2 separate regions of the Homo sapiens genome follow, and region 1 is linked to region 2. A link means that fine-mapping ties the variant in region 2 to the expression of a gene that starts in the linked region. Tissue or cell type: whole blood. Region 2 holds a variant in brackets; the other region holds the start of a gene. All regions are shown on one strand. Distances are from middle to middle.

Region 1 (2,759 bases), 81 kb before region 2:
ACTAATAGGGAGGCTGAAGCACAAAAATCACTTGAACCCGGGAGGCGGAGGCTGCAGTAAGCCGGGACAAGCGAATGCACTCCAGCCTGGGCGACAGAGGAGACTCCATCTCACACAAAATAAATAAATAAGTGTCCAAATTCACGCAAGTGAAATACACCTCAAGGATTCCAATCTAGGTACTGTGCTCCCCGATCACCAATGTCTATTGTGTTATTCCACAAGTATTTCGCTTTGTCAATCTGACCCCTTCCCCCATCACCAAGAGCAGGTATGTCTAGCACCTACAGGTAGGCCGAAGTCTCCGCAGGTTAAGTTTTCTTAACTACAAAATACTACTTGCCTTCCTTATCCTGGATCTTGGCCTTTACATTTTCTATCGTATCCGAGGGTTCAACCTATGAGTGTTAAAGTGAAAGCATGTTGGTTACACATTAAGGAACTACAGCAGAACTCATTTAGTTTGACAATTACCACTGAACCGAACCAGCGACAGGGCTGAGACCTACTCGAGAGACCTATTACCCACCCAGTGGGCAACCTCCCAAGTCGGCTACCGGAAAGCACCTTCATCTCCCCAGCCCAGAGCGGGCGGCGGCCGCAGGGCCACACGTGCTCGCACCCGGCGGGCAGAGCGTCTCCTTCCCCACCGCAGCTCCTCCGTTTTAACTAACTAGCTGGAACCCCTCGAGAGGAGACAGGTCCAGCCTTTGGCCACCGAAAATCACCTCTAGGTCGTTGCTCAGCAAAAGGTACTCATTTCAAAGCTTAAGTTTTAGAACCCAAATTCGGAATCATGGTCTAAGACATGGAAAGCAGCGCCGGTCCTAAAATCCACCTCAGGACCTTATTCGGACCTTGGCTTCCTCATGACCACCCGGCCCGTACCTCGAGGGTGATGGTCTTCCCCGTAAGGGTTTTCACGAAAATCTGCATTTTGGTGGCGGCTCCACCTGAGGTTGAGGAAAAGGAAGAGACAGGTTAGGTCAGGGATCACAAGAGAAGGCACCATAGGGTGCTAACCCGAGAGCAGCCGAAGTGCAGACACCCACCGCAGATGGCGGATCGAAAAGGAAGAACGCCGCGCAGGCCCACGGGGTTTCCCGGAGCTCCCGCCGAAGGACCCACCCCTTAGGCGACCACACCAAATGCCTGACTGCCGTCCCAGCGACAATCCAACCCGGTGCCAGACTAGGACGTGAACTTCGTTTCTCCTCTCCCTAGCCTGGGCTTATTTCTCACTTTAGCCTTCGGAATGCTTTCGAAACTGTAGGTTTAAGCAACGTAAAAGATGTTTTAAAAAGGCTTTTCCCGTACAATCAACGTGGCTAAGAGAATTTTTAAAAGGAGGTCGAGGGGGGCCTCTTGGGGAAGAGGTAGGAAATGGAAGTGCATTCTGGGAACTGTAGTTCTCCACTGCTTTCTTCTACCTTGGACTACTTGTCCCAAGATGCAGTTCCACCTCCCAGATTCCCTAGTTACTATCTCTAAGCACTGAAGTCGGTGTTTGGAGAAAAGGACTCAGGTGAGGACTGGAGGTAGGATGAAGCGGAATAATGGTTTCCGGAGCGTGGGAACGGGCCGGAAGTGACTAGAGCAAATGTTAAGCGGGGGGCAAAGGGTGCGGGGCACGAAAGGTGTCCTTCACTCACTTCCAGAAGCGGTGATGGGCAGAGAATCAGCAATCTACCAGACGCTCCTTGGGCCTTCAAGGGAAGGGAATTTGCGTGGCCTGCTCCAGGCAAACTGAAAAATAGGTGAAATCTGCGGAAGCGGGGGTTCAGCCCTTTCTCTCCTGTAGCGCCTCCCTGCTTTCAACCGCCGAGTCTCTCCCAGCCTAGGGAAGAGTCTGGGTCTTGTGTGTCACTCCTTAGTGTGACACGCTTTAATATGTTGAAAAATCTCAGGAGTTTTCAAATTTTAAAGTGAAGCCGTACGGAAAAGAAACCTGCAGAATGGTTATTTAGTTGTAGAATTTCCAAATTTGGGCATTGGGAGTCTTGGATCTGAGAGGAAGTTTTTGGAGTATGTATGGGGTGCTTCTTCCGGCAAGGAGGCCAATTAGAAGCAAGTTCTCCCTGTCCTTTCTCCACTCCACAAACCAGAGTCCTTTCTAATGTCTTCTGTATTTATTTCTTCATCCTCTGCCCTCTGCGACCCCATCCCCAAATTCAGACCTTAATTTTCTCTTGTAGGGGTTCCGAATCTAACTCCTTATCTCTCTCCAGTCTTTCCTCCTTTCTAACCCACCTTCACTATTGCCTCCAAAATATTCATTCTGAAAGGTAAATGTGTGTTATTATTTTATACCTCACCTTCAGGATACAATTCAAATTTCTTAGAATGACATTCAGCCTCTGCCTTCCTTACAACCTAATCTGCTAAACCCATTACTCTACATTTTAGTAAATGAAGCTAATTTAATTTCCTGACCTATGCCCTCCCGTGTTTTGGCATTTCTGAAGAATCCAGTCGTTTATTCTTCCTGGAACTTTTTTTTTTTTTTTTCGTGAGACGGAATTTCGCTCTGTTGCCCAGGCTGGAGTGCAGTGGCGCGGTCTCGGCTCACTGTAAACTCCGCCTCCCAGGTTCAAGCAATTCTTCTGCCTCAGCCTCCCGAGTAGCTGGGATTACAGGCGCCCACCACCACACCCGGCTAATTTTTGTATTTTTAGTAGAGATGGGGTTTCACCATGTTGGCCAGGCTGTTCTCTAGCTCCTGACCTCAAATGATCCATCCTCCTTGGCCTCCCAAAGTG
Region 2 (2,759 bases):
GATTAAGTTTGAAAGGGCACTTCATTGACTGTCTCATCTGAGCAGCCCTGCGAGCATATTTAACAGACAGATATATCCTTTGGACTAGGTGTTTGAGCTTGAAGAAAGGTTTTTAGGGTGGCAAAATTAGTGCTGTCTCCTGCAAGGCTGATTGAAAAGTCTGCACCACTTTTCTGGTTTTCACCTCTGATTGCAGTCCCATCAGCAAGTGTCTACACTGTGCTCATACCCTTCTAGGTGTTGTGATGGCTGGAAACTCATTGTGAGATGTTGCTCTTGCCAAGAACAAGTGTATACTCCAGAGCAGGAGGCAGCTGCACTCTCATAGGCAAAGTATGATAAATACTCTTAAGTCTTGTGGGATCCAGAGAGGATAGACAATGTAGACCAGAACTAAGACTAGGACCTCCACAGTGGATTCTTAGATATTTGGGTGACACAGACTCTTACCCCTGCCTGTCTTTGGAGGACAGAGTCATTTGTACAGAAATCCCAGGTCATTTTCTTACTTGTTTATACTGAAACTTCTCTACTCTGGTCCTCTCTGTTGAGCTAGCTGCAGGCTTGGCAAAATAGATATTTGGCATCTTCCCATGTTGACTTCTTTTTCTTTTCCTGTCTCATTTTTCCACATTATTGTTTCCCTCTTTCAGCCCCAATATGTCCATTTTCTTCACATGCCCTTCTCCACCTGCCCAGGCCTCAGGCCTCCAGCCTCCCTTCCCCCTACATGCCTGTTGCACATCTGAATATGCACTGCCCAGGCAGGGACCTGCCCAACTTTCCTTCTACTCACTTTTTCCTAAAAACTAACTACCCGTATGGGCCTTCTCTTCTGGGCTTTGCTTTGCATTTTCTAAGATGAGACGAAATTTTGATAATGCATTTATTTGCTTGTCGAACATTTCCCTTTTTTCACATGGTGAAAGTGCCATGATAGGCACCACAGAGAAGGAATGTAATGAGGATCCACCTCTCCAGGAGCTCTAGGCCATCAGGAAAGGCCATCAGCGCTTATCTTTTTCTGAGAGTCTCCTAAGATTTACTTTGAAACTTAAGTTGAGTCCTAGGATTGTAAAAATTTCATGTATATTCATAATTATACACCAAGAGGGGAGAGAGTGGATGATCCTGATACCCTACATGGAGAAGGAACTTACTGTGGGGTGGAAGAAATTTACATCTCTGTTTATCCTGACCTTGAACAACCAGCTCACGGTTGGTGGGAGTAAGACATTGGAAGGTATTGTTCAATACTGTCTTGTCTAGTTCTGAGAATGCCTCAGTCATCTGCAGACAGAGCTATAAATACCAGATTTCTTTTTTTCCCATCTTTTCACAGGTGTTGAAAATATCAGACTTCTTTGGCAGATGGGAGGAGTCTTATAGGACTCAGGAATTGTCATCACTGGTGAAAAGAGATGCTTCCCCTTCTGCAATGAAAGACAGAAGTGAAAGCTGAGCTGTGAGACGTGGTGAGCGACAGGCCAGTGGGAGACAAGGCCTTGGTCTCTGCTGCCAGCAGCAGTGGGCTCTGTTGGTCTCCTCTTTTCAC[T/C]AGGGGAAGTAGTGAGGGACCATAATTCTCTCTCTCTCTCTCTCTCTCTTTCTTTTTTTTTTTTTTTTTTTGAGATGGAGTCTTGCTCTGTTGCCCAGGCTGGAGTGCAGTGGCACAGTCTCGGCTCACTGCAACCCCCACCTCAAGTGATTCTCCTGCCTCAGCCTCCTAAGTAGCTGGGATTACAGGTGCCTGCCACCACATCTGGCTAATTTTTGGTATTTTTAGTAGAGATGGGGTTTCTCCATGTTGGCCAGGCTGGTCTCAAACTCCTGACCTCAGGTGATCCACCCGCCTCAGCCTCCCAAAGTGCTGGGGTTACAGGCATGGGCCACTGTGCCCCGCCTTTTTTTTTTCTTTTCTTTTATTAGTCACAGCTCACTGCAGCCTCAACCTCCTGGGCTCAAGCGGTCCTCCCACATCAACCTCCTGAGCAGCTGGGACTACAGGCATGTGCCATAATGCCTGGCTAATTTTTTGTAGAGATGGGGTTTCACCATGTTACCAGGCTGGTCTCAAACTCCTGGACTCAAGTGATCTTCCCACCTTGATCTCCCAAAGTGCTGGGATTACAGGCATGAGCCACTGCACCTGGCTTCATAATTCTCTTGAGCAGTGTAGTCATGGGGCATGTTTGGGAATAGTGGGGACCCAGTGTGGAGCTTGAACTTCTAATAACCCAGTGGTGACTGGGTGGAGAATCAGGAATCAAAGACCCGGTCGTATTGCCATTAATTGTTTCCCTGGGTTTGATGGGCACAGAAAACAAAGATTACATAAAGAAGAAAAAAACTATGGTTCTTGCTTTCGGAATCACAGTGTGATGGGGCAGTTAGGATAATTGACACACACATAACGGGAGTGAACAGAGGTGGGGCGATGGGAAAGGAGAGAAATGTTGTATGAGCAGAGTATGGCATTGGCCAACCTCAGTGATCTGAATGGGAAGAGTAATGTTGTGGCCTCCTTGGAAATCCTTTAAAGGGATGGATGGTGTTTGTTCCTCTTTGTGACATCCATGCTCTCAATATTGCTGATGACGCGATAAGGACTGAACACAAGATCTCTCAGATGGCAAGCTCCAGAGGGTACTTAATGCTATAGTCCAGTGTTTGTCAAACTTAAATGTGCACTGGAATCACCTGTACATGAGGGCTTGTTAACACACAGCTTGCTGGGCCTACCCACAGAGCTTCTGATTCAG

The links. PIP is the estimated chance that this variant, and not a neighbour inherited with it, causes the effect. A credible set is the group of variants that fine-mapping cannot tell apart.
Region 1: CLHC1 starts here. The variant in region 2 is the best candidate, but not a certain one, in a credible set for the expression of CLHC1 in whole blood (TOPMed, PIP 0.74).

The regions. Positions count from the first base shown.
Region 1 is chr2:55,231,002-55,233,760 of GRCh38, reverse strand. CLHC1 (clathrin heavy chain linker domain containing 1) reads left to right here and starts at 1,468. Exons shown (of 13, transcript NM_152385.4): 1 at 1,468-1,538. It overlaps RPS27A (ribosomal protein S27a), which reads right to left and starts at 1,073. Exons shown (of 6, transcript NM_002954.6): 1 at 1,053-1,073; 2 at 889-953; 3 at 344-398. The coding sequence starts at 936. RefSeq lists enhancers at 794-973, 994-1,423.
Region 2 is chr2:55,149,786-55,152,544 of GRCh38, reverse strand. No RefSeq gene overlaps it. Among named protein-coding and RNA genes, the nearest start is that of CLHC1, 81 kb to the left of the region's middle. RefSeq lists an enhancer at 1,560-1,609. The variant T/C (reference allele first, on the strand shown) is at 1,556.